Linked DNA regions of Homo sapiens. The protein of the gene in region 2 purifies or fractionates together with the protein of the main gene of each other region. This does not show direct contact. Each region holds a gene or a part of one and is shown on either strand. Other genes may lie near its edges.

Region 1 (4,106 bases), on a different chromosome or scaffold from region 2:
GTCCTGCCCACAGCCCTGCCGGGTGCAAGAGGGACCTGGGAGGGGCCTCCAGAGTCAACGTGAGCCTGTGGGGTAGATGCAGCTGTGCGACCTGACCCTGGATACTGGTAGGCCCCATGGGGCTGGTCATGGAAGGAGCCTGCAGGTCACGGAAGGAGCCTCAGGGCAGACAGGACACTGGGGAGCCCTGGGATGGGCTCATAGGAGGGAGCACTGGTGGGCGCCCCAGGTCTTGGCCAGCCCGAGGGACCAGGCCCTGACTCCTCTCGCAAGGGCTTGCCAGACCTCCTCCAAGATGCCCTGGAGGACGATGGCCGTGGGAAGAGCAGTCAGGCCATCAGCGGGCCCCTTTATCAGACCCCAAAGGGCTGAGTGTGCACCGCCACTCCCTGGGGCCACTCCTGTGTTCCCCCACCCACCTGCTTTAGTTAGGGTCTGGGGGCCCCCGGAGGTGGTGACGCAGGGTGCAGGAAGCCAAGGACAGAGTTCAGAAGCCGGCAGGTGTGGCAACACGTTTAATTCTGTGGCCAGGCTAGCCTGTCTCCAAGGCCTGGTGGACAGCACGTCACCAGAGGCTGCCGCAGGAGCAGGCAGGGCCAGCCCTGCAAGAGGAGTGCAGGCAAAGGCGGGGGCTCTGAAGTGGCTGCTGGAGGCAGCAGGCCCCGGGCTGGGAGTGCTCAGTAGCCGTCGTTAGCCCAGGTGACCTCGTAGTCGGGGTACTTGGCTTTGATTTTCTCAGTTGAAATGGCGTGCTGGGCAGGACCATAGGCCTGGAGAAGAGAAGACGCCTGCTGGCACTACCTGGACCCTTCAACCCGATACCCGGCTCTGGGCATCCAGCCACCAGCCACACCAGAAGCGAGTGTGGGAAAGGGATAGGCAGTGCCTGGGGATGCCAAACCCACCATCCCGACCGCCCTTGGGGGCTCCCCTGGGGAGAGGCGACCTCCACAGGCAAGCAAACCTTGATGGTGGATCCTGGGGCCTGAGGCGCCCAGAGGGACGCACGTGGGTCTCATCTGCTGGTGGTTTTTGTGAAGAGCACAGGTGGGGACTCTGAGCTCCACCCAGGTACTGACTGCCTCTGGGGGCCCAGGGCCCAAAGTGCTGGAGGACAGCTAGAGCCCAGCAAGGCCTCCCAAGGCAGGGAGAGGAGACAGCCGGCCATGTCTGGGGGTGTCCGTCCCACCCCTCAGGTCTGGCGTGTGCTCCATGGGGGAATGCAGGAACACAATGGGCCCTGGAGGGAGGGCTCTGCCGCCGACCCTGGGAGAACCCCAGGAAGCCTGCGTGCTCAGCTGGGGCCACGGGTCAGGGCAGCAGGCTCAGGTGGGCCTCGAAGCTGGTACTGGGGCCTCCGGCAGGGCGGGACGGGGCTGCGGCTCACCATGGAATAGCCGTACACGTGAATCTTCTTGTCCTGACTCTGGTGGGAGATGCGCCCGCCGCCCAGACACTCACAGTCGCAGCCTTGCTTCTGCATGTCGCCCGACACTTTGTCGTAGATGTCCGCTGGGATGGGAGGGCGGCCTCAGGACGTGCCCTGGCCGCCCTTGGAGGCCGCGGGAGGAACTCCCAGCCGAAGGGGTCTGAAATCCCAGCTCTGAACAGCCCCTTCCCCAGGAGAGACGAAGCCCCTTGAGGCTGGGACAGGGATGAATGAGCGAAGGAGGGTGGAACCGGGGAGGGCGCGGGAACTGGGAGACTGCTGGGGAGGGTGTCAGGCCGTGTCACGCCCTTCCCGCCCAGGACCTCAGCCTGGGTCAAACCTAGCAGGGGCAGGACTCGGAGCAGAGCGCAGTCCGCTACGGCCCGCAGCCCCGCCCCCGCCCCGCCAGCCCCGCCCCTGCCTCGTCAGCCCCGTCTCCGTCCCGCCAGCCCCGCCCCCGCCTCGCCAGGCGTGCCCCTGGCATGCCCGCAGGTCCCGCCCTCACCATGGTACTCAGCCCACTTGTAGCCGCGCACGATCTCCTTGCTCTCTGCAGCCGGAGCCCCGGAGCGGGGAGCCGAGTGGACTCGGATCAGCACATACTTGAAGACGCCGTCGGAGTCGATGTCCACATCAGGAATGAGAGCGAGGTCCGCCACCGCCATGTTCCTCCTCCCGGAGTCCCCTCCTCCCACCCGACCCGGGGGCCGCTTGTACTGCGGGAGGCGGGCTCTGCGAGAGCGACGACCAATCCCGTCGGGGAATGCTTCCCAAGGCCCAGCGCCTCAGCCAATTGTACCGCCGACCGAGGCACGTGCTGACCAATCGCAATCCAGTTCCTTGCCGCCTTGCGGCTCCGCCAGCCCCGCTTAAAGGAAACGTGGAATCGGGAATGGGTGGTGATGAAATCCAGCCAACGGAGAAGTTCCTCTCCAGCGGGGTCCGGTGGCACCCTTGGAACGGGGCAGTTAGGCGGCCCGCGAGGCTGGGGCAACGAGGGAGGCCTGAGGGACTTGCCAGCCCTGACCTCCTGTCCCGCACGTAGTCCGAAGACCACCCTCCCCGTGGCCCCCACCGCCCAAAGGCCTCCCTCTCTCCCCCTCCCACCGCCCGAAGGCCTCCCCCCTCCCCGCTCTCCACCGCCCGAAGGCCTCGCTCTCCACCCCCTCCACCGCCCGAAGGACTCCCTCTCTTCCCCGTCCACCGCCCGAAGGCCTCTCCCTTTCTCCTCTCCACCGACCGAAGGCTTCCGTCCCCAACCCCGCTACCGGTACAAGGAGGCAACGGCAGCCGCTACATTCAAGTTCTATTTTACTTGGTTCGAAAGCTCTTGCCCCCTGGAAATTATTCCGGTCCAGGGGCGTTCCCGGCCGGCCCTCAGGGGTGGGGCCGAATGCAGAGGCCCTGGGGTAGGGGGCGCGGGGCGCGGCGGCGGGTGGGCAAGCGGGACGCCTGGCCGGTGCAGACGCGCGGGGACGAGATGGGCGTGCCGGGTGCGAAAGCAGGAGCGGAGGCGGGGGTGCCCAATTTCTCTCACTTGGTGCCCCCTCCCCTGGCTCCGAAGTAGGGCTGGGGACTCCAGGAGGGCCCTTGCGTTTGGCCTCCACCCCTCTCCCGCATACCCCACCCTCCAGAGAGCTCTGGGCGCGGACCAGGGTGCACTTGGGGGACAGGTGGAGGCCGGGCCGCCGGGCTTGCGCCTCCACGCCCGCAGTACGGCGTGCGGCCAGAGCGGGTGTGCGGGGACCTCTCGGGACAGGTCAAGCCCCCTCGGGTGGGCTTCCACGCTTACCAACTAGCTCTCTCCCTCACCTGCTCGCACCACGCTTTGCCCTCCAGGCTCCCACCTGGGAACGCCCCGTCCCTTGGTCCTTCCTCTCCTAGCCAGGTGTCAGCTCTGGCCAGGCCCAGGTGCTCTGCTTCCCCTGTTCAGGTCCCCTGCCCCTTCGGCTGGGAGACTTGCATATCGGCCTGAAGACCTCCCTGCGGTTTTTCCCAGCTCCTGCAGGGCCCAGACTGCAGCGGCTGGAGGCGAAGGGACGGCAGGGCGCGTGGCGTGGTTAGTGTGCTGGCTCCGACCAGCGGGAACGCACTGCGCACCGTCCGCCCTGCCCACCGCCTCGGCGGGACGCGCTCGCGCACACGGACGCACAGAGGTCGACCAGGGTGTTCTCCAGCGAGGAGGCAACACAGCCGCGGGAGGCGGGGCGGGGCGTGTTTAAAGTGACAGACTGGGCTTTGGTTACGTCGGGCTTCTGGACGAGGGGAAACCGGAGTCGGGGAGGCTCCAGCGAGAGCCCCGCGGACCGACGGGGACCGGATCTCTACGGGTGGGGTCTGTGCAGTAGTGACCCCTCCGAGTGAAGGCAGAGCTCGGCGGTCCTCAGGCCCACCCCGCCTCCCAGCGGGGAGCACCGAGGGCGAGGACCGACTTCTTCTGGGGATCCTCGAGGGCGAGCTGGGAGAGGGAGGAGGCCCGGAGGAGGGAGAGGGGTTGCTGGGGGTGGGAAGGCGAAGGGCCTGTGAGGAACACTACGGGGACGAAGGGCCGGGGGGTGGGGGCCTGGGCGGAGCTGGAGGCCGAACTGAGCGGAGCTTGGAAGGCTGGGGAATTAGAGGCGGGGCCTAGAAGAAGTCGGGGTGGGGCCCTGGCGGGGCTCGGGGGCGGCCCTGGGTG
Region 2 (4,039 bases):
AAAGGAACATAAAGGGATGGGAAAAATGGGGAGATGATGGTCAAAGGGTACAAAGTTTCAGTTATGCAAAATGAGTAAGTTCTAGAGATCTAATGCACAGTGTGGTGACTACAGTTAATAATACTGTTCTTGTCCAGCCTGGACAATACAGTGAGACCCCATCTCTACTTAAAAATAAAATAAAATTAGCCAAGTATGGTGGAACATGCCCATAGTCCTAGCTACTCAGGTGGCTGAGGCAGGAGAATCACCTGAGCCCAGGAGTTCAAGGTTGGAGCAAGCTGTGATCACATCACTGTACTCCAGCCTGGGTGACAGAGAGAGAGAGCACCAGTCTCAAAAATAGTAATAATACAGTATTGTATACTTGAAACTCGCTGAGAGTGGATCTCAACTCTTCTCACTACACACACAAAAAAGGTAACCATGTAAGATTATTTTAAATGGCTTGATTGTTGTAATCACTTCACAATGTATATGTATGTCAAAATATCACATTGTACACCTTAAATATATATAGTTACTTGTCAATCATATATCAATAAAGCTGGAAAATAAAAAAGAAACATAAACATAAAATGTTAATCAATGCGGCACTTCTATGAATTTAGTGAGAGCCCCTTCTCTCTCATTCTCCCCCTCTCACTCCCCTTTATCCAACCCTTTTCTATTTTTTCACACTGGTTTATCATCATCCTGTTCTTAGTAACCTGGAGAATTTTCCGAAAAATATTTTCACAAGTCTAGCTATGTTGGAAAATAACCACAAAGGATATTCTATTGATAACCCAAATAGAACACATGAAAACAAATACCATCAGCTGTTATTTCAAAACAAATATAACAGTACCAGCTGTTATTTCATAACACATAGCTGATGCTATTTGTTATTTCAAATCAAAACAGATTTAACTATTTGGAAGTATCCTCATAAAACCCCCAAAAGAATAAACAAATATGAACTGTTTATCTTTGGCAAGAATTCAAGCAAATGTGGAAACTGAGTTATAACACAGCTAAGCATAGATTGAAATTATTTTCAGGTGTCAAAAAGATACTTTACAAATAAAACCATTACCTTCTCTAAAAGTCTTATTCCCAGCTAACGCTGTCTTATTTGCTCACCTGATCTGAGGATCTGCCCACCTGGGTCCAGCCAAGACAGAGACTGCAGTGTATTCCACAGGCTTATAGTCTTGCCACTCAACAAGCCAGCCCACTTTCTCATTAGGAACCTGGCTTCGTTCAACTTTTGAACCTGGGTAAGGAGACGTCCGAGCCTTATTGTGAGAATTTTCTTTGGAACCATTAGAACCAGACATGACGTTGGTATTAAGATGAAACCAAGAAGATGAAAACGAGTTTCTGGGGGAGAAAAAGAAAAACATTTTACATAAATACCAAAAATATATTAATTAAAGAACCTAGGCCGGGTGCAGTGGCTTACGCCTGTAATCCCAGCACTTTGTGAGGCCGAGGTAGGTGGATCACCTGAGGTTAGGGGTTCAAGACCAGCCTGACCAACATGGTGAAATGCCGTCTCTACTAAAAATACAAAATTAGTGGCATATGCCTGTAATCCCAGCTACTTGGGAGGCTGAGGCAAGAGAATCACTTGAACCCAGAAGGCAGAGGTTGCAGTGAGACATCGCGCCATTGCACTCCAACCTGGGCAACAGGAGTGAAAACTCCATCTCAAAAAAAAAGCAAAAAAAAAAAGAACCTAATTCAAAGACCCAAAAACATACTTTCCAATTTCAAAAACCTTTAAGAATCAGAAAATTCAAATATGATGCATATTAGTCTAAAGGTCCAACATCTATGAGAGATTATTTTCAAATATACATTTTTTTAACATATAGCTAAATCTTATTAGCTGGAACCCACTCACTGAATTTATTTTAGACAAAAAAAAAAAAAAAAGGACACAAACTTACTTGTGTGTTATCTGTTGTGGAAGGGGAAGTTTGTTATGAAAACTCAAACCATAAAAACAAGTGTAGGCCAGGTGTGGTGGCTCATATCTGTAATCCCAGCACTTTGGGAGGCTAAGGAGGGCAGATCACTTGAGGTCAGGAGTTCGAGACCAGCCTGCTCAACATGGTGAAACCCTGTCTCTACTAAAAGATACAAAAATTAGCCAGGTGTGGTGAATCCCAGCTACTCGGGAGGCTGGGGCAGGAGAATTGCTTGAACCCAGGAGGCGGAGGTTGCAGTGAGCCGAGATTGTGGCACTGCACTCCAGCCTGGGCGACAGAGCGAGACTCCATCTCAAAAAATATATATACATATAAAAGAAAACTGTTTAAAGTCTACGTAAAGGAATATATTTTTTAAAAATCATCTATAGTCTAACATACACATAAAACGTATGGCAAAAATGGTTCAAAGGAAAAACAGGAAAATAGAAATTATTGAAAAATTTTTTACACTGAAAATGAACTAATGTAATATAATTTGAAGGTAGACTGTGGTAAATATACAAATTGTAACCTTTAGAGCAAAATTTAAATAAAATATACAGGCATGAAATAACTGGATAGCATATGCAAAAGAAAAACCAACTAACCTTCACCCTAACCACACAGCATATACAAAAATTTTTCATATCTCATCTTGCCTAAAAAGTTAAATGACTTCTAATTATTCTTAAAATACGAATTCTTGATGACCTTAAATTAGGACATCTCAAGTGGGAAAGGAGATTCTGAGGACATGGTAAAATTATGATAGCTCCTTTCCCCTGCTCTCACAATACCAGTCAATTTGCCCTTCTTAAGACAAATGATTGACGGGGCAAATATCCACTTGACCAAGGTTGTGGACTAAGTCAACAGCATGTGCCTCCTGATCTCATACAGTGAGAAGCATGCAACAGTCATTTGAGGTATTTCTCCCAAAAATATATGACATGAATCTGAACATTAGGAAACACAAGACAGACCCAGGTTAAGAGACATCTTACAGAATAAAGGTGTGTACTCTCTAAATTGGTAAGGTCATGAAAGATAGAGAAAGGTGCAGGAACTCTTCCAGATAGATTAAGACTAAAAAGACATGACAATTAGAAGCAATCAATGATCTTGGATGGGCTGATGACCATAAAGGAAAAAATAAACATTGCAGGATAGGTAGTAAAGTTTGGATGGGGTTGTATAAATAATTTTAAAAGGTGAATTTTTTTAAAGTATCTATTTACTCCCAACAAAGAAAAACCCAGGACCAGATGGCTTTACTGATAAATTCTACCAAACATTTAAAGAAGAATCAACACCAATATTCCCTCAACTCTTCCAAAAACGTGAAGAGGAAGTAAACACTTCCAAACTCACTCTGAGGCCAGCATTATCCTGATACTAAAGCTTGACAAAGACACTATAAAAAAACTACAAACCATTATCTTTGATTAATACTGATGTGAAAATCCTCAACAAAATAATAACAAACAGAATTCAACAGCACATGAAAAGGATTATATGCCATGACCAAGGGAGACATTCTTGGAATCCAATGATGGTTCTATATAATGAAAATCAATCAACATAATGTATCACATTAACAAAATAAAAAAAAAAAACACAATCTTCTTGATTGATGCAGAAAAATTATCTAACAAAATTCAGCACCCTTTCACGATTTAAGAATATTCAACAAACTAGGAATAGAAGGAAATTACCTCAACATAATAAAGGCCATATATGAAAAGCCCACAGCTAATGGTGTGAAGGTGAAAGACTGGAAGTTTTTCCTCTAAGATCAGGAACAAGACAAGGATGTTCACTTTAATCAATATAATACTGGAAGTTCAGCCAGAGCAATTAGGAAAGAAATAGAAGTTCTAGCCAGAACAATTAGGAAAGAAAAAAAAAGGAAAAGGTATCCACATTGGAAAGGAAGAAGTAAAACTGGTTGAGCATCCCTAATCCAAAAATCCAAAATCAGAAATTTTTTGAGTGCTGATATGATGCCACAAATAGAAAATTCCACACCTGGCTTCATGTGATGGGTCACAACCAAAACTGTTTCAGGCACAAGTTTA
Region 3 (4,722 bases), on a different chromosome or scaffold from region 2:
CAAGCTGGTATGAATCAGTTTTCTGTTGACCAAAGAGCCCAAACTCATACATGTATTGGAGCAAAAAAAACCTGTGAATTCAAGGCCTGCCCAATGTGGGAGATGTTGATTACCTTAGAAAAACAAAGCTTGGTGCTTCTGATCCCAAGAATGCCGATATAATAGCAGAGTAGCATTAATTTTGTTGTGTCCTAGCATCCCAGAAATCAAACATGCAAGAAATATACATTTCTTCATTTTCTTTAAATCAGATTAACTCTGGTCCTACACTGGGCTGATGGAAAATTCAAATATAAGCATCATATGTTACCCCTAGTTCTGTTCTCCCTCTGCATCCCTCACCCCCAGAGCCACAAGAGAAATAGGGAGGCTTGCTGATGTCCGGACAATTGGGAAAAGGCCTCTAATCTCCAAGTGCCTTGGAGTCATCCAAGTCATCATTGATCAAGCCTTGCAACCTTCCCTGCAAGTCCCTGGCTCTCTGCTTCCATGGCACAAGAATAGAGAACTCTTTCCTGAGGCTAATGGACACCATGCTCCTTTGGGTGCAGTCATCCCTTCTGAAGTCACAACATCTTTGTGGAAAAATTAACATCTTGAAGCAGGGCCAGGTGTCCACTAATCCTGTGATATGCCAATCTTTTCAGTTAGCTTAGGCTTTTATAATAGACCACAAGAGTAAGTGACTTCCTTCTAGGAGTTTCAGCTTTCCACCCTGAAAAAACTCCCTCAAAGATTTTTTTTTCCTTTTAATAAATTGTTCTGCCATGTGTCTGTTGCACGAATGGGTGCAAGTTCAAATGGGACCCCATAACTGGTGATTGTGAGCAGCTAAGGGGCATCACTAAAATACTAGATATTAAAGTCCAAGAGTATGATGAGGACAAAGAGTGGTTGTAAAGAAACCTAAAAAACAATGAGGGCAAACTTTATCTGTCTCACAATAGTTATGATAGCATTTAATGTTTCTGGTGCAGAAGTAATTTTTCTCCACTCTGCCTTGTGCTGGAATCAAAACAATATTCCTCAATCTTGTTAGGGAGTGAATAACTTTTAGGGAGAAGGTCTCAAATGGGAAGTGGTTTAAAGTTTATGAATTGCAAGAATACCTTTTGATATCTAAACAAAGTGTACTAAGGAATTCAACCCACAGAAGAGCTGATATTCAAAATCAGAATTATTAAAAATTGTAGTGGGGTCAGTGGGGGTTTGGGGAGGGTGAACAGGAGTGCATGAAGAGCATCAAAATAAGCACAAGTGATTTACCATTGGCTTGGTTTCTTCGGGGAATTTGAAGAATTCATACTTATTTATACGTTTTCAAATATTTATTTAAGTGCCTACAACATGTGAGGCATTTGGGAATGTCTCAGTTAACGTGGTACATAAGTTCCTTGCTCTAATAGAGCTCACATTTGGATGTCTTCTAATTCTGAACCTGAATGTAAGAGCACAATACAATCAATGAAGCAGTGAGCCCAGGAAGCCATGGATCTTCACAAGCCTCAGGAAAAGTCAACATTTAAAATTTTCTATTTAAAGTCCAAGGGCACAGCAAGCTCTTGGTCTATATGGGAAGGCCATGGACTACAATTCCCACAAGTCCGTGCGACCTCTCCGTTCTGCGCAGCTTCGCGGTATGAGGAAGAGGGTCCTGTCAGGCGCACTCTTGTTGCATCATCAGCGTGCACCTCCACGATGAAACAGGTCTGGGCTACAAAAGTATGGCCGCTTCTGAGGCGGCGGTGGTGTCTTCGCCGTCTTTGAAAACAGACACATCCCCTGTCCTTGAAACTGCAGGAACGGTCGCAGCAATGGCTGCGACCCCGTCAGCAAGGGCTGCAGCCGCGGTGGTTGCGGCCGCGGCCAGGACCGGATCCGAAGCCAGGGTCTCCAAGGCCGCTTTGGCTACCAAGCTGCTGTCCTTGAGCGGCGTGTTCGCCGTGCACAAGCCCAAAGGGCCCACTTCAGCCGAGCTGCTGAATCGGTTGAAGGAGAAGCTGCTGGCAGGTACTGCAGCCCGGGTGGGGACCAGGCTGAGGCGGTCGCTGCGAGAGGGGAAGCACATTAGGCTTTTTGCGACGCTCGTGATTCAAGAGACAAAAGGAGGGGAAAGGGAGACTGACCATTGAATTAGCTCTGGACAGGAATCTCGGGCATCTCGGGCTTGGACTTGCCCTGGCACGAACTCTTGTAGCCTACTTGGCAGTTGTAGTTCTCAACGGGAGGAAAAAAATCCCGTACTTACACAATAAAACCCTGCCCTTGGGCGTGCAGACCTGTTTTCTGTAATCTGATCGATCCCTCAGGAGGCTTTTGTTGGGTTCATGTGGATGAACCCCAAAAGGAAGTACTGGTTCTGCACCCCTAAAGTTGCATTCCTCAAAATGTATTGGAAATGCAGATATACTTCGTTAACCAAGACTTAATATAGTCGTTTTCACATTTTAATGGGCCTAACAATTACTTAGAGTCTCTTGTACAAATACAGATTCCTAATCCCTGCCCTGTCCGAGATTGTGATTCGGAGAGTTCGGGGTATTTTTAGGAAACTGCAATTCTAAATAGTTGCTCCAGGTGATTCCAGTGTAAGTAGTTTATGGACCACATTTGAGGAACACTAAATATAACTTGGCCACTAAGCTGAGAGTGTTCATTTTATTGATTCGTTTATTCACGTACACTGGGAAAATAGTAGAAAAGCCTAGAGAATCACCCCGTTAATCAGCTCGGATGATTTCACACATAAAGCATCCAGGATCCTTAAGTTCATTGGACATATACAATAAGCCAGGTCTGTGCTAGCCTATAGAGACTTGAAGATGAAAGATAACTCTCTTACCTTAACTGAGCTGATAGCCTAGTAATTTCTGCACCTTGTGGTGGTAAAACTAGTTAGTTAGGTTATTCAAGGCCCTCCAGAGTTTGGCCGTATTCTGTCTCGCCATTAAACCAGTAACAGGGACTTTCTTACATTGTTTAGTGTCCCATGGAAAACTTTACACTTTAAAAAAATGCAAAAACAAATTATTCTGATGGGAATTATAACTGACAGTACAGATTTAAGTGTTTATGGGCAAATAGGTACACTCCTGCAGATGTTTAATTCCAGTATCACGACTACTTATTCTTTTATTAAAGTTTTGCTTTGTTGCCTGAAAGTATGGGTCATACAGAGGACGTCAAAGTGAGGAATTGCATCAAGGATATGTATTGTGGTATCATCATAGTTTTTTAGTTTTCCTTCATAGAACTGCTGCTTTCCTGATTTGTTAGCTAAACTCTGGGTTTCTTTTCTTTTTTTTTTTTTTTTATCCTTAAGGTAATGATTACCATTCTTTCAGACAAGTTTCTGACAAAGCCATATTCTGGCCTTCTGGCTAATCTGCCTCTAAGAACTGAAGTTTCTTGTTGAATCTTGGTTAAAATGTTTCAAGGCTCTTGCTAGGCTAGAACCTTTAGCTAGAGACATTCTCATTATCCTCGATTTCTATATTGCTTGTGATTGGCCTATTTTGTATTTATGTTAGTTAGGCTAGGGCTTTCCAAATGTCATTGTAATTGGCTGTCAGAATTGCTTGGGAAGTTTTTGTTTTTGTTTTTGTTTTTGAGATGGAGTTTCGCTGTTGTTGCCCAGGCTGGAGTGCAATGGCAAGATCTCGGCTCACTGCAACCTTCCCCTCCTGGGTTCAAGTGATTCTCCTGCCTCAGCCTCCCAAGTAGCTGGGATTACAGGCATGCACCACCATGCCCAGCTAATTTTGTATTTTTGGTAGAGACGGGGTTTCTCCATGTTGGTCAGGCTGGGCTCGAACTCCCGACCTCAGGTGATCTGCCCGCCTCAGCCTCCCAAAATGCTGGGATTACAGGCATGAGCCACCACTCCCGGCCTTGGGAAGGTTCTTAAAGATACCTACATTCTAATGCCATGTTTGACAACCATGATCAGTGGTTGTGTCCTCTAATACCATTCCTTGTCTTTCTTTGCATTGATTCCTATTATGCTACAATCTCTACTGTTTGTCTGTTGGGATCCTTCAAAGCCCTAAGTGTACCAGAATTTTATAGCTAGAAAATAATAAAAATCCACGAATACTTAGTTCAGTGGGGTGAACCAAATTCCCCACTTTATATAGTAGAGGCAGTACGTCTGCAAGTTAGAAGGAGGTATATTTGGGCACAAAGGGAAGATAGTATATTTATGGGGCCTTCTTACTCCAAGGGGTGTCAAGTTGAAAATGTAAAGAGTTCCCCAAAAGGTTTCTGTTAATTTATGAGTGAGAGATCCATGATGGATTGCAAGTGACAGATCAAGGGTTTGAAACTGAGGTCTGGCCTTAGAAGTTTATGTCAAAGCAGACAACCATACCCTTCTAAGTATGGTGATGTCATAATTAGGGAATGACGCCAGGGTGTTCCAGAGACCATGGTTCTGACTCAGTAGAGTGGTAATTTTGTTGGGAGGCCGAGCCACCCAGCATATCCTTTTGGCCATTTAATCTGGCTTCTGCATTTCCACTGTTGCTTTGTTTTCCCTCCTCCCTTCTCTGTCCACTCGTTTCGTTTTCTTTGCTTTATTTTCTTTCTGCTCAGTGTCAGTGTTGATAAGGAAGGTTTGATGGGCTTGGGGGCAGGTATAGATCAATGTAGCAGTTCCTGCTTTTCTCTTCTTTCTCACTTGAAGTCTAATAGCCAATACTCTCTCAGTATGTTATATGCCAT
Region 4 (4,807 bases), on a different chromosome or scaffold from region 2:
TTAGATTCTTCTTGGCCTCTCTCCATAGGACCCTCTTTGGAATGGGGGTCTTATGACCTAAACTCAGACAGGGTGAGTCATATAATTTCTTCGTGGTCAGATTTTACATAGAAACACAGGGAGAATGCTAGAGTAATATCTATCTATCTATCTATCTATCTATCTATCTATCTATCTATCTATCTATCTATATCTCTCTCTCTATATATATATATTTTTTTTTTGAGACGGAGGCTCCCTCTGTCGCCCAGGCTGGAGTGCAGTGGCGCGATCTCCACTCACTGGAAGCTCCACCTCCCAGGTTCATGCCATTCTCCTGCCTCAGCCTCCCGAGTAGCTGGGACTGCAGGTGCCAGCCACCACACCCGGCTAATTTTTTTGTGTTTTTAATAGAAACGGGGCTTCACCGTGTTAGCCAGGACGGTCTCGATCTCCTGACCTCGTGATCCGCCTGCCTTGGCCTCCCAAAGTGGTGGGATTACAGGCGTGAGCCACCTTGCCTGGCCTAGAGTAGTATTTTTATGTTTTATGGCTGGCTTTATAAAAAAGGGGTCCTGATTTCTGGGACCTGATTTGGGAAAGAGGAATTCTAGCTTCTATGACTAGTCTGGGGAAGAATGTGGGACCAGAGACAGGAGACCAAAAGGAGTCAGAGGAAAATTTTTCCTTCTAAGGCTGCTTCTGAGGCCTTCATTGTGGGGTATCATTTTCTGAACCCCAAAACTTTGAACTCAGTGTGTTTCACTCTCTGCTCTTGCTGTGTGACCTGAGGACAAATCACTTAACTACTCTGAGCCTCAGTTTCCTCATCTGTCTGACAAAGCTAATCATACCTTTTTCAAGAAACTGTTAAAACTTTAAGGAAAATAATGCATATAAAAACACATTTCGGCCAGGCGTGGTGGCTCATGCCTGTAATCTTTGGGAGGCCGAGGTAGGCGGATCACTTGAGTCCAGGAGTTTGAGACCAGCCTGAGCAACATGGTGAAACCCCGTCTCTACAAGATACAAAAATTAGCCGGGCGTTGTGGCAGGCGTCTGTAATCCCAGCTACTCAGGAGGCTGAGGCATGAGAATCGCTTGAATCCAAGAGGCGGACGTTGCAGTGAGCCGAGATCGCGCCATTGCACTTCAGCCCGGGCGACAAAAGTGAAATTCCGTCTCAAAAAAACAAAACAATAAAACCCCACACAATTGCTTGAAGCATAGTAAGTCCTCAATAAATAGTATGTAAGTAAATTATCAAGAATTGGGCAGTTGGTTCTGGTTATCAGTTTATTTTTTTTTAATCTAGTATAGGTTTACCAGCTTTAGGTTAGCACCTAAAAGCTGCATAATCGGAATCATATCTGCAATCTGGGTTTTGTCAAAATAGTACTATAGAATAAATGGGAGAAAGAAGAAAGCAAGCTAAATGGGAAACCGTGAATGAATGGAGGACGAAAGAAGAAAAAGGCAAAGTAAAGAGAGAAGTAATGTTTAAAAACTGAGAGATGAAAAGACAAGCAGGAGAAAAGAACCAGAAGCTAGAATGAAGAGGCAGTATCCCATGCTCCAGCGCGGGTCAGGACCCGGCCCGGCCTGGCAGAGGCTCGCAGGGCGCAGCTCGGGGCGGGGCCCAGCAAAGCAACCACGCCCCCTCAGGAATGGAGTTTTTAAGGGCGGAACTTCCTGTTGCGAGTAGCCCCTCTACCTCCGGAAGAGACGAGTGCGGTAACACCGTTCACAGAGCTAGCCGGACGTCCTCCGACTCAAGGTGAGACCGTTATTTTCCTCACCGCACCCTCCGGGTTCAGCGGGCGCTGTGGGTTTCCAGGGAGGCCCCTTCCCTCCTCAGGAGCGGGCGCGAGCGCCGTGCGCGGTCGGCGCCTAGGGTGGAGGCAGCCTCTGGGTGACCCCTGCCTGCTGCGTTATCCGGAGCTGCCCTGGGCGACCGGGAACAGTTCCGGCATTGGAGTAGCGGTTCGCTCACGCGACCTCACTTAACCTCTGTGGCGGCTTCTGTGGAATAATTGCCCCTTTTTATGTCCCCAACTCCGAAAAGCTCCTAGAAACTTGGTGCATCCCCAGGCCCAGGTAGTCACTCTAAGTGATGGGGCAGCGCCCAGGTCCTGTGCTGCCCGCAGTCGCGGTGCTGGGACAGGTGGCAAAAAGGAAGGTGGCCTGGCTCCTACGCTGGAAGGCTGTGACCAGGACAGAAACAGCAGGAAACAGTTCAGGTGTTTATGGCTTTGGGAAAATGAAAGTGAGTAAACTACGGACCCTGCCCATCAATAAATGTACTGTGATTTATATATATATAACTATTCATATATTATATATAACTATATATAAAAATATATATAAAATGTACTTATATACTTTATATATAGTACATAAATATACTTATGTATAGTATATATACTTATATATAGTACATAAATATACTTCTGTATACTTATATATAGTACATAAATATACTTACGTATATATACTTATATATAGTACAGAAATATACTTACGTATATATACTTATATATAGTACAGAAATATACTTAGGTATATATACTTATATATAGTACAGAAATATACTTAGGTATACATACTTATATATAGTACCTAAATATACTTAGGTATATATACTTATATATAGTACATAAATATACTTACATATATACTTACATATAGTATATAAATATACTATATGTATAGTACATAAATATACTATGTATAGTATATATACTATATATACTATATATAGTATCTATACTTATGTATAGTATATATAGTATCTAAATATACTTATGTATAGTATATATAGTATCTAAATATACTTATGTATAGTATATATAGTATCTAAATATACTTATGTATAGTATATATACTATATATAGTATCTAAATATACTTAATGTATACTATATATAGTATCTAAATATACTTATTTATAGTATATATATCTAAATATACTTATGTATAGTATATATACTATATATAGTATCTAAATATACTTACGTATAGTATATATAGTATCTAAATATACTTATGTATAGTATATATACTATACATAGTATCTAAATATACTTATGTATAGTATATATACTATACATAGTATCTAAATATACTTATGTATAGTATATATACTATACATAGTATCTAAATATACTTATGTATAGTATATATACTACACATAGATACTATGTATAGTATATATACTCCACATAGTATCTAAATATACTTATGTGTAGTATATATACTCCACATAGTATCTAAATATACTTATGTGTAGTATATATACTCCACATAGTATCTAAATATACTTATGTGTAGTATTTATACTCCACATAGTATCTAAATATACTTATGTGTAGTATATATACTTATGTGTAGTATATATACTTATGTGTAGTATATATATACTAGATATATATATCTAAAGATACTTATGTGTAGTATATATACTACACATTAGTATCTAAAGATACTTATGTGTAGTATATATACTACACATAGTATCTAAAGATACTTATGTGTAGTATACTGTAGTATCTAAAGATACTGTGTGTAGTATACTATATATAGTATCTAAATATACTTATGTATAGTATACTATATATAGTATCTAAATATGTATGGTATATATACTATATATAGTATCTAAATATACTTATGTATGGTATATATACTATATATAGTATCTAAATATACTTATGTATGGTATATATACTATATATAGTATCTAAATATACTTATGTATGGTATACTATATATAGTATCTAAATATACTTATGTATGGTATATATACTATATATAGTATCTAAATATATAGTATATAAAGTATATTTACTGTATTATATATGTGTATGTGTGTGTATGTGTGTGTGTGTGTGTATGTGTGTATGTGTGTGTGTGTGTATATATATATATATATAGTTTGCATCCACCATTCCTGGCTCATAACTCCCATAGCCCTTGACAGGAATCTTGGCCCACCTTTCTGTCTTAGAACTAGCCATGAAGAAATTCTCTGACCTACCTTGTCTGACTGTAGATCGTAAGACCTCCATTTCACAAGGGGTCTTGCCCCATATACAGGAGAAAGGAATGCTGGACAGAGAGGCCAAGATGAATCCGAATGGACAGTCCTTGCTGGGTTTCCACAGTCAGTCTGTTCCATTTGGATCATACTGATTTTGTGGGATCACATTTCTACACAGTTGTCAATCATGCCTATCCAGTGATTATCCAGACTCAGGACCTCAGTTGCTGTCTACTCAAGTAACTTACATGTTTCTACATGGAGGCCATACCTCTCCTGTGAGCTCAGGATCCATGATTCAGCTGCCTAACTGACATCTTTTGATTTTACAGAGGCCTCTCATCTTCCGCTAATTAAACTCCTGATCTCTCAAACTCCTACCTATATCCCAAACTTGACTCTTTTTTTGTTGCTCCCTGTTTCAGTAGACTGTGACGGTTATCCATACAGTTGCCAGAGTGGGAAATCTGGACATCCAGATTCAGAGGAAATCTGAACTCTTCCTGTCCCTGGTACTCTGTAGCCAATCTGTTAGATTCCCTCAAAACAGGTATCTCTGACTCTCTTAACTTCTCTACCAGCAAAACTTCCCTCCCAGGTTTCAGCCAATCATCAGGTATCCTCCCACTACTGCATCCTGAATGTAAATCTGCTGACCCTCTACCAACACCCACTTTCTACCCTTCTGTTGAGTAGCCACAATGAAGTGATTCTTGAAGCCCCTTCAATCAATGTCTTATCCCTAAGGCCCCCCTGTAGAGGATGATCCCCACTACCTCCCCAGCTTTAT
Region 5 (2,762 bases), on a different chromosome or scaffold from region 2:
CGTGGGGTAGCAATGGGACAAGAAGGAGTAAAGATGAGGAAACTGGTGGTGTCTTGGACAACTTTTCTGAATAGCCTTGGCAATCTCTGAATCATCATTACCAGCATGAAGTTGTAGGCTGAGCTGTCCAGAGGCGTGCTCTGCTAGAGTCTTCCCTTCCCACTTCTCAGGCAGAGTGTGGCTTGCTACCCTGCGTCAATTAATACCAGTTATGATATTAATTGATCCTGGGAGAGCTACATCTCTTCACTACTCTGGTCGTTCAGGGCACCCTTTCCAGTGTAGCAGGGTTGAGAGCTGTCTTGATGCCTATAAGAAAGAATGTATGTGGCCCTTGTATATGTGGCCCCCCTTGAGTATGTGGCCCTCCTACCACTGAGGTTGAAGCTGTGCAAATAGACATGATTGGTGATTAATGACAGTTAAAACAGGGCAAATAGTACCAATGAGTAGTGGCATAGTGTAGATTCAAGGAGGGGGGAATTGGAAAAGGGATTTCCTGAGACGAACTACCTCACTGACTCTGTAACTAAAAGGCTGAGCGTGCATATGCCTTTAAACAAGGATCCAGATGTTATCCCCAACTCCGAATACTTCCTAACATCACTGACTTCTTTGCAGAACAGAGGGCTGATTTTTTGTTGCTGTGTCTGGTGGCCTTTGTTGCCACCAAACACTGTAGTAGGGTGCTGGTTTTCAAGGCAAGTATTTCCAGGGTAGATGGAGAACCATTGCAGATGCTGCAGCTCCTTATTGAATGGACTGCAGGTAACAAGTATAGGTGGAGTCCAAATCTCTATCTTCTTTACTGTTATAATCCTGACTTGATTCGAATCAACTGAAAATTTTTATAAAGGGGGATTCTGCACTAGCCATTTGCAAAGTTATTACATGATCTGTAGTAAAATTTACATCATTTCTCACTGTGAGGTAGGGGCATTGGACCGGGTGTCATTCTCAGATCCACAGAGGGAGGAGTCCCAGTCTCTAAAAGGAATAAAAATGAAGACCCTGATGAAGTTTTGAAAGAGTCACCCACTCCATAACAGACTGCTCAGCACAGAGACCACCCCTGCTGTTAACATTTCTAAGCCAATGCCTCGATGTTAGGCCCAGAAGCCTCCTCACTTCACCCTCTGTAGTCCAGGGATATGGGACTGTGGGGTGAAGTGGTTGGGGACGAAGGCTTTGTTTTAAAGCTGAATGACTCAGATCAGGAGGAGGAGTCGTCCCAGGCCCCCCAGAGTCAATGAAAGACCCCTATGCAACTTCTGTCAGAATTCCCTACTCCCACAAAACACAAGCCACCCCCTTACTTCTAAGAGCTGCACCCCTGCTCTCAGCACTGGGTCCCATATGGGGGTGGCTAGAATTGGCTTCCCCAACTTCTGACTCTAACTTCTCAGAAGAATGAAGGCATTAGTCTGAGCAGGGTAGCCTCAAATCAGCAGAAAAGAGAGTTCCAGAGATTTCCAGGTCCTGTCAGGAGTTAAGTTAAAGACCTTAACTGAGATCTGAGGACTCTTTATACCAGAAGAGAGAAGGACCAACAGAATCCCAGCCCTGTGTAAGCCCTGGGAGACCCTGGACAGGGATCCTCTGATGTAGTGCCCTTTGAATTCCCAGGATCCTGGGAGGTGACAGCATTGAACCATGCTTTGGCATCAGACCAGTAGAGAGCAGGGTTCCAGACCTTCCAGCAGTGATGGTGAAGACCCTAATATTTGAGGCAACTATCCACACCAGATCAGAAGGGCTCCACAGCATCCAGGCTTCTGCTTTCAGGCCTGAGAAGCCCATGAATGGAGTGGCCAGATATAAAAGTCTCTGAGTTCCACCTCTGGATTTTTAGGGAAGTTAAAAAACTGGTGCCAGAGGGAGGTGTTAAATCAGCAGAGGGAGGAGTTCCAGGCCCTGCTAGGAGGTAAGATAAAGACCCTTTGTGAGGTGTAAGGGTAATAGCCATGCCCTTGCTGTTAGTGGTAGCCAACCTTGGGCAAAAAAAAACCTCTTATATAGCACCCTCTGAATTCCCTCTTTGGAAATTCAAGGAGAGGACAGCATTGGACCAAGGTTACAGCCTCAGGCCAGCAGATAAGAGTCCCAGGCCCTAACAGAAGTAAAGGTGAGGAAACTGAGTGAGATCAGAAGGAACCACCCACCACAAAAGAGAGGGGTTCATAACAGAGTCTGCCCCTGCTCTCAGCCCAGGGAGGTCCCAGGTTGGAGTGGCTATTGTGACACTTTCTGAATTCCATTACTGCTTTCTCAAAGAAGTGAAGAGGTTTAGGTTGTCAGAGGAGCTATTTTGAGGCCTTGCCAAAAGGGAATACAAAGATCTTGAGTGAAGTTTGAGGGGGACTTCCACTCCAAAAGACGGGCCCCATGGATTCATGACAGGTCCAGGACAGGGCCTGATGAAGCACCCTCTGAATTCTGGTGAGAACTCAGGGAGGGGAGGGCGTTGGACCAGAGTGTCAGCCTCTGGTCAGCAGAGAAGGAGTCCCAAGCCCTAAGAAGAGTAAAAAGAATCCTGAGTTCTGAGGGAGCCATCCACCCCAGATCAAAAGGGGACAGCACAGAGTCCCATCTATGCTGTCAACCCTGAGGGACTGTGGGGTAGATATGTTAGGCTGAGGTCTCTCTCACTTTCTCCTTTTGTAACTCAGAGATGTGAGGGCCTTGCTCTGAGGGGATAGGTCTCAGGCCATCACAGGGTGAAGTCCCAGGGCCTAGCAGAAGCCAAGGTGAAAACCCTGAGT
Region 6 (4,039 bases), on a different chromosome or scaffold from region 2:
TAAAAAGAAATATCAAAAAGCAATCATTTTACTAATAGCCCCCGAAATTCCATTTATGTTTACCTGTAGTTAAAACTCCTCAATATGAAAGCTTAAAAATATTTTTCTCTTTCATTAATATACTACATTTCCTAACTTTCTTCTTCTGGCATTAGAAAGGCAAAATTATCAATTATTGTTTGCTAAGGCAAAGACAGTGAAGGAAGGAGATAAACTAAAGGGAACATCTTTTCTTCTGACCTATTATGGTTCCAGCCCTGCCTCACTGCACCCAGCATAAGAGCACCCAGAGATGGGGCACAAATCACTTATATCAGCATATATTATTCTTATAACCAGCAAAAACAAAGATCTTCCTCCACCAAAATATAAAAAGAAAGAAAAGTTAATAGATGAGAGAACTATGCCTAAAGCCAAATAGATTTACTAATGCCAGAGTTTACTAGGAACACAATATTTAAGGAACAGGCATATAACCCCAAATGCATCAAAACATAACTTATTTTAAGACAAAGAAAACATTTTGTAATTTTATAAGAAATATTTCTTTCAGTGTCATTATCCTTTCATCCTAACTATGACCTGGCAATCTGAAAGCTCCTAAGGCTTCTGCCGTGTTACAGAGAACATTAGTATTACTAAAATAAAAAAACTTATTATCTCGTTCTAAGGAATAAGCTGTATACACCTTATGTCTCTACTTACTAAAGAAATTTAGACAACTAAGACTTTAGTCTATGCTTAACAAAAAGTCTCAACTTTACTAGCAACTATAAATTCTTTTTACATTCATTCCATTTATTTTTAAATAATTTTAATAAAATATATTTAGTTGAAATAATGAATTACTCTTTGAAATTATTGTTTTATCCTATAATTGGCAAGAGGAGGTACTAAATATCTTGATTCTGACAGTTAAAGGTTATATTACAAAAAATAACCACTGTGTGCCTGGGTCAACTAGGAAATGACCAACAAATATTTGGTTATTAAAAACAGATACCTTGCTGTTTAAAGAAATACCAATAAAACATAATGCATTTCTTTATAATTATTAGGTAGCCACCAATTAAATGCCCTGGTTTAAGGTCACTGAACACCCTTCCCATTTACTTTAGCATAAATCAATAGTGCTAAAACAAGGCTGTTTCACCAGCAAAATGACAGTTATCTAATAAACAATTTACAGTAGAAACCTTGATCTTCCAATAATAATAAAGTTTCTTCTTTCATATAAAAATAGGATCAGGGATTAATGAAAACAAGGTAGTTAAATGAAAGGTTAATCAAGAAAGGATATAATCTGAAAATTTTATAGAGATAAGAAAATGTTTTATAAGCTATATATTTATCATGCTATACCTTATATCTGTGAGAAATATTGTTATAATAATTTATTCAGCAGTCAATATACTAAGCACTGTGTTAGCTATTGGCACTGAGCATAACACAGTCATGAAAGAAAATCCATTTTTTAGGAGTTTTTTAATTAATAAATTGATTGCCTCAAAATATACGCTAACTAAAAACCAGAACCATAAAACCAAAAACTATTAAGCCAGAAAGTGGTAAACATTTGTAAGAAATTATGAATTTACCTTGGCTCCGCACTCAGCCTTATTATATTTTTTTGTGGCAGAGAATCTTGTGATTTTTGTTTCAAATCCTATAAAAATGAACAGTAATTTTTTAATTTTACTTAACACTCCATGGACTCATCCTGAAACCAGAAGACCATTCAAATTCAAGTTTAGGAGGAACAGATTAAGGACTTATAAAAAGTTAAATATCAAGGGGTTTCTAATTAAAGCCAAGCAAAACAACTAGTTATAATGCCCCAGTTGCCTTACTAACATCTTAATAGTATTCTAAAACCCTACATATTTCACATACTTTGAAATATTTATAGAAAAGATGAACATACAGGTAATTTATATTAAGTGATAAAAATTCTTTCAAATAATGTACAAAAAATTATATTTCAATGTCTTTTTTCATTAAGCTTCTCATCCTCTTTGCTAATGCAAGAACAATGGAATTACACATTTTTATGATGACCATAGATGAAATTACTAACCATCTCCAGGAAGGTATCAGGAGAGTAAGAGTCGTATGTGAGTTTGTCCTTCAAAATAAGAAGAAATGCAGAATTTCCAATTATCTTCTCCAAAACCATTAACGAATGAAAAAGTCTGTAAATCAAAAATTTTATTAGTCTGAGAAACAATTTAAAAATCTGCATACAATATTTTCAGTTTCATTACTAATAGCCAAACCACCAGTATCTTCATCTTGTATTCAAAGTGAAACCTATAATGAATCTATGACAAACCTGCTCTTTTTTCCCCTAGAACTAAGTACATCAGAAGATATAACTGACAAGAATCCATTTAAAACCGAAAGCTTTCTGGACACACCTGAAACACATAAACATAATCAAACTATGTATACTTTCTATGAATATCGCACCAAATAATAATATCCAGTAGGATCACCCCAATAACTTTGAAGCATTCTATCAAAAAAACAATGATTTGCTACTTTAGAAAAAGCTCTAACAAGGGTTTTAACAATGAATAAAAACATGAGATAATTCAGCTCACAAGAAAATTCAATTCGTATACAAGTCATACCCCAAGAATTAAAATAGATGTTTTGTTTAATTTAGTTTCATGTTCTTGTTCAAGAGAACCAGAACAAGAGTTTTTGACAGATGTGAATAATGAAATTGTCTTTATCCCTGTTAAATTTTTTGGTCACTGAAATTACTAACTATATTCAAATTGTATTTTTATGTCTAAGGAATCAAAAGTCTACTGATTCCAGACCAATTCTGAAATACATCCGCTACTGCTGAAGCATTACTCATGGAAAAAGAACTTGCTTGAAGATTTTTTTTTTTTTTTCCTAATTCAGTTACGTTTCTTGAAGGCTCTACAGACCAGGCATCCATAGGCAAATTCATATTGGAGAAGTACGTAGAAACTCCTCGCTAATCACGTTTTCAATTATATTATTTTTTCCAATACAGAAAGCAACTTTGGATCTATGCCTTGAAGACATTTTTGTTGTCATGCAACAACAACAAGAAAACCTATAAAAGAAGTTAACTTCTTTTTTGCAGAGCATTAATATTTCCTTCAGAGATGTAAGTGATCATGATCAATGTTATTAATTAAATACATTTACATGGCAAATCTATAATTTTAATGCTAAAATCTTATGGATTTGAGTTCATGCCATAATCTAACTAAACTTCCCAACATATTCAAATGTTTTCCTAGACAGCATTAAGTGTTTTCACCATACTAAAACACCATACGAATATGGTTCAGTTATGACAGCAAGACCCTCAATCTAAGTTCCTTTCTATTGTCTACAGGGCTATCTTTATTAGGCAGCCTGAATCTGCAGAGTGAAAGTCATGTTCTCCACCACCTAAAACCAGATGTATTAAAGAGTCCTAATTAAACTGAGTGAAAGCCAGGATCAATGTCTGCATCCTAAAGGCACACATGCAGCCTTCTCATAAGATGAGTACTAAAGACTACAGTATATCACTCCCCAAATGTTTTCTCAGGATGTATAGAGCTGCTTTGCTTAAAACAAAACAAAATGAAACACAGTACATTTGGGAAACATTGGGTAAAACAAAATTCTAAACGTTTCAACATTTCATTAATACAGGATTTTTTTCAGGGCCTCTAATTTCCAAACATACACTTATCCTATTAATACGGAATACGGTTCGGGAAAAATCACTTGGGAATCACAGTTTCTTAGTTTGCTGTTATGGTTGTTGTATTAAGGAGATGTTAGCATGTCTGCCACTATATAGTTTGTCTACATTTTAGGACCCTCACGCTCACCCTGTGTTCCGTTTTCTCCCACCTACCTTAATTACAAGTTAGGAATAATTAGCGGAATTCTAAAACATTTCTCTAAATGACCTCATTACCATTTCTTCTTCCCTTCTACATAAGCCACATTATCTATTAATACTTTTAAGCTGACTATTACAAACATTGTCCCAATCTAA
Region 7 (4,039 bases), on a different chromosome or scaffold from region 2:
GGGTCTGCAGGCACTGACACTCCACACCCAGGACAACTCACGCTGCAGCACCCAGACCACCCACGCGGCATGCCCACGTGCCTCCCAGGACACTCGGGAGCAGGAGCTCTGTCTGTTCATTCGCCAGATGCGTGGGACACCCTTTAGGGAAGTCACCAAGCAGCTTGTTTTCCCAGCAGCAACTATTAATATAAGTTAATTTGTTAACAAAGCTTCTGCTGTGTGTAACCTTTATTATTTATCTATTTGTTTTTTAGGTTTCATTTAGTGTAACCCAGCAAGTACTTTTAGAAATTTTTTTTTTTTTTCTTGGAGACATGGTCTCGCTTTGTCAGCCAGGCTGGAGTGCAGTGGCACAATCATGGCTCACTGAAGCCACAAACCACTGGGCTCAAGCAATCCTCCTGCCTCAGCCTCCTGAGTAGCTGGGACCACAGGCATGCATCACCACACCTGACTAACTCTGCCTCACATTTTTTATGAGAATAACTCTAAGTACCCACACTGAGCACTGGATGTTTTTCAGCAGCTGATCATTCATACCCTAGAGCTGTCTTCCTCATCACCCACCTTGTGTACACCTCTGCCCATGAGACTGCCTGCCCGCCTACAAGGTGGCACGAGCATCCCCCTTCCCACCTGCCTCATGCTTGTGGGCAGCAGGGAGCAGGCTTCTGCACTGTGTGGCTGCAGCGGTGTGAAGGCCAGCAGAGGCGTGAACCGTGCTCGGTCTTTGGAGGCACCAAAAATACTTCCCTGGTACATGGGAAGAGATGCACAATTTTTATTCACTTAAACCTGATTTTACTCATGTAGGAAGCTAATACCTGTGAGATGAAAGACAATGTTTTACAGCTGTCTGCAGAGGGAGTGGGGAGAGTCTGCTCTGCAGACATGACTGTAGACAGATGTGTGAAATCATAAAGACCTTCCTAAAAGCCACTGGAACATCTACATAGAATCCACAATATAGGCAGGGCACGGTGGCTCACGCCTGTAATCCCAGCACTTTGGGAGGCTGAGGTGGGTGGATCACTTGAGGTCAGGAGTTCAAGACCAGACTGGCCAACATGGTGAAACCCCGTCTCTACTAAAAATATGAAAATTACCCAGACATAGTGGTGCATGCCTGTAATCCCAGATACTTGGAAGGCAGGAGAATCGCTTGAACCCGGGAGGCGGAGGTTGCAGTGAGCAGAGATTGCACCACTGCACTCCAGTCTGGGCTACAGAGCAAGACTCCATCTCAAAAAAAAAAAAAACCCACAATATAAATAGGAAAAAAAATGCACATGACTAAATTTAGGGAAAAAAAGAACATTCCATACGTCTATCCAATAGACAAGAGGAAAATAGCAACTGGATTAAGGCTAAAAGTTTGGTAATAAGTTATTATAGAATATTATATCCTACTGCATAACTTAACCACTTTTCTTTTTTAAAAAATAGTTTTAACAAACCCTCCTTATAATTTTGACAGCTGAGTGCCTTTAAGCCCCTTTTTTCTTTCTTTCTTTTTTTTTCTTCTGGCTACTTAGTCTGTTTAGTCTGTGACAAGAAGGTCAGGATCATCCCTGCTGTCCACAAAGGAGATGATTTATGATACTCTGTCCCCATCTTCACAAGCCACTGCCCAGTGGGAAAGCAGCTGGATGTCAATGTTCAGCTGGTGGTGGCTGGGAGCATGTTTTTCCCATGTCAAGGATTCTGTTTGATGTTTTGCTTGACTCACGCATTCAACAGACACTGCTCTGTGCTGGGCACTGCAGGGCAGCAGGTTACATGGGGGCTCTGGAGCAGGGCTGGGAAGACAGCTAAAAACACTAGACCCTTGAGCTGCTGACCTCATCTCTGGGCCTAGGCCAACCCAGAGAAGCTCCAACAGGCTGCTCCACAGAAGGGACAAGGACGGGGTTTCTATCACTATAGCTCAGGGATGCTACTGAATCTTTTCCAAGTAGCTACACTTGTATCTCACTCAAAATCATCATCTGAAAACAGGTTTAGGCGCCCCACAAAGCCAGGGCATGGCAGGAGACAGCTATGTGGCCAAGGCCAACAGCACACTCCAAAGACCCAATCTATAAAAACCCGGCCTTACCATGCTGCCTTTTTTTTTTTTTTTCCTTTTCTTTTTTTTTTTTTTAAGATGGAGTCTCACTGAGATGCCCAGGCTGGAGTGCAATGGTGCAATCTCAGCTCACTGCAACCTCCACTTCCCAGGTTCAAGCGATTCTCCTGTCTCAACCTTCCAAGTAGCTGGGACTACAGGCATGCGCCACCATGGCCCAGCTAATTTGTTTTCCTATTTTTAGTAGAGACGGGGTTTCATCATATTGGCCAAGCTGGTCTCGAACTCCTGATCTCAAGCTATCCACCCACCTCGGCCTCTGAAAGTGCTGGGATTACAGGTGTGAGCCTCTGTGCCCAGCCCTGGTTTGCTTTTTGTCATGTTACGAGTTAAATGCTGGGACTTCAGGGATGACCATGGTCAGGTCCCTCATTCACAGGTGAGGAGTTCGAGGCCCTAAGTGGTGAGATTTGCCAAAGCTGCTAGGGCCAGTGACAGAAGCAATTTTATTTATTTATTTTTTATTTTTTGAGACAGAGTTTTGCTCTTGTTCCCCAGGCTGGAGTGCAGTGGCGTGATCTCAGCTCACTGTAACCTCCACCTCCCAGGTTCAAGCGATTCTCCTGCCTCAGCCTCCTGAGTAGCTGGGATTACAGGCACGCACTACCATGCCCAGCTAATTTTTTGTATTTTTAGTAGAGATGGGGGTTTCACCATGTTGGCCAGGCTGGTCTCGAACTCCTGACCTCAGGTGATCCACCCGCCTCGGCCTCCCAAAGTGCAGGGATTACAGGTGTAAACCACCGCGCCCAGCCTATTTATTTTTTTGTTTTGAGGCAGGGTCTCACTCTGTTGCCCAGGCTGCAGTGCAGTGGGGTTTTTCATAGCGGCTGCATCAATTTACATTCTCACCAACAGTCTGCAAGGGTTCCTTTTAATCTACATTTTTTTTTTTTTTTTTTGAGACAAGGTCTTGCTCTGTCACCCAGGCTAGACTGCAGTGGCAGCATCACAACTCGACCTCCAGGACTCAAGCGAGCCTCTCACCTCAGCCTTCCAAGTAGCTGGGAGCATAAGCGTGCACCAGCATGCCCAGCTGATTTTTTAATTTTTTTGTAGAGATGGGGATTCACCATGTTGCCCAGGCTGGTCTCAAACTCCTGGGCTCAAGCAATCCTCTGACCTTGGGCTCCTGAAGTGCTAGTATTACAGACATGAGCCACTGCACCCCACCAGAAGGAAGTTTAAACCTTATCATTCTTTGATTCAGTCTACACCTGTCTTCCAGGTCAAGGAGCAAACCTTTGGATTTCATGGATGAGTGAAATAAAATAATAAAACTGGGGAGCCTGTATCAGGTTTTTAAAAAAATGTTATTAAGTCTATTTTTAATATCATTTCATGAAAGACTAAAATCAAGGAAAGAGAAAAGCTCAGAATAAAAGTCTTTCCTAAAGGAGGATGAGAGGCAACTTCAAATTAAATATATTGTTTAAGGGATATATTTAAATACTTAGAAAGCAGAAAAAAATCACAATGTCCTATTTTACAATATGTATACAATTTTCTCTCATCACAAATTTATCAACTTTTCTATGATCTAAAATACAATTAAATCCCCAAAATTTACTTTCTTTTTAATCTTAGTCATTGGCAAAAAAAACTCACTTCACATAAATATGTTGAAAAACAACTGCATTTGATGTCAATTTTTGAGGCACACTGAGCAGAGAAGAGAACAGCTGCTTTCACCGTGTCCACACATTCACCCTCAGAGCTAGGGAAGATGGGGGTGACACACAGACTGGGGCTGTCCGTGGTGCAGCCACAGTCCACTGACTTGTGGGCTAGAGCTTGGGAACCCCAGATTTCAATCACTGATTCCTGGACAGGTGTGTGGGTCTGACCCTACCAGGGGGCCTTTTCAGAGATGGAGGCTGGTGTTCAGCCCGGGCACGCTCCCAGGTA

What was found.
Region 1: the proteins of NUDT9 (region 2) and PHPT1 fractionate together in Homo sapiens (co-fractionation; one large-scale study listed by BioGRID). This does not show direct contact.
Region 3: the proteins of NUDT9 (region 2) and TRUB1 purify together in Homo sapiens (affinity purification with mass spectrometry; one large-scale study listed by BioGRID and IntAct). This does not show direct contact.
Region 4: the proteins of NUDT9 (region 2) and IMPA1 fractionate together in Homo sapiens (co-fractionation; one large-scale study listed by BioGRID). This does not show direct contact.
Region 5: the proteins of NUDT9 (region 2) and MAGEB10 purify together in Homo sapiens (affinity purification with mass spectrometry; one large-scale study listed by BioGRID and IntAct). This does not show direct contact.
Region 6: the proteins of NUDT9 (region 2) and MAN2A1 fractionate together in Homo sapiens (co-fractionation; one large-scale study listed by BioGRID). This does not show direct contact.
Region 7: the proteins of NUDT9 (region 2) and IMPA2 fractionate together in Homo sapiens (co-fractionation; one large-scale study listed by BioGRID). This does not show direct contact.

The regions. Positions count from the first base shown.
Region 1 is NC_000009.12:136,847,419-136,851,524, reverse strand, and holds PHPT1 (14 kDa phosphohistidine phosphatase), read right to left. Parts: upstream 2,117-4,106; 5' UTR 2,095-2,116; coding exon 1,935-2,094; coding exon of another isoform or gene 1,929-1,934; intron 1,513-1,928; coding exon 1,388-1,512; exon of another isoform or gene 1,023-1,387; coding exon of another isoform or gene 965-1,022; intron 771-964; coding exon 678-770; 3' UTR 501-677; downstream 1-500. UniProt on the Homo sapiens protein: Exhibits phosphohistidine phosphatase activity.
Region 2 is NC_000004.12:87,432,307-87,436,345, reverse strand, and holds part of NUDT9 (ADP-ribose pyrophosphatase, mitochondrial isoform a precursor), read right to left. Parts: intron 1,366-4,039; coding exon 1,126-1,365; intron 1-1,125.
Region 3 is NC_000010.11:114,936,530-114,941,251, forward strand, and holds the start of TRUB1 (pseudouridylate synthase TRUB1), read left to right. Parts: upstream 1-1,665; 5' UTR 1,666-1,724; coding exon 1,725-2,010; intron 2,011-4,722. UniProt on the Homo sapiens protein: Pseudouridine synthase that catalyzes pseudouridylation of mRNAs and tRNAs. Mediates pseudouridylation of mRNAs with the consensus sequence 5'-GUUCNANNC-3', harboring a stem-loop structure. Constitutes the major pseudouridine synthase acting on mRNAs.
Region 4 is NC_000008.11:81,683,201-81,688,007, reverse strand, and holds the start of IMPA1 (inositol monophosphatase 1), read left to right. Parts: upstream 1-1,682; 5' UTR 1,683-1,756; intron 1,757-2,044; exon of another isoform or gene 2,045-2,092; coding exon of another isoform or gene 2,093-2,245; intron 2,246-4,807. UniProt on the Homo sapiens protein: Phosphatase involved in the dephosphorylation of myo-inositol monophosphates to generate myo-inositol. Is also able to dephosphorylate scyllo-inositol-phosphate, myo-inositol 1,4-diphosphate, scyllo-inositol-1,3-diphosphate and scyllo-inositol-1,4-diphosphate.
Region 5 is NC_000023.11:27,817,990-27,820,751, forward strand, and holds part of MAGEB10 (melanoma-associated antigen B10), read left to right. Parts: intron 1-2,762.
Region 6 is NC_000005.10:109,787,087-109,791,125, reverse strand, and holds part of MAN2A1 (alpha-mannosidase 2), read right to left. Parts: intron 2,193-4,039; coding exon 2,078-2,192; intron 1,667-2,077; coding exon 1,599-1,666; intron 1-1,598. UniProt on the Homo sapiens protein: Catalyzes the first committed step in the biosynthesis of complex N-glycans. It controls conversion of high mannose to complex N-glycans; the final hydrolytic step in the N-glycan maturation pathway.
Region 7 is NC_000018.10:12,001,758-12,005,796, reverse strand, and holds part of IMPA2 (inositol monophosphatase 2), read right to left. Parts: intron 1-4,039. UniProt on the Homo sapiens protein: Phosphatase that can use myo-inositol monophosphates, myo-inositol 1,4-diphosphate, scyllo-inositol-1,4-diphosphate, glucose-1-phosphate, beta-glycerophosphate and 2'-AMP as substrates in vitro.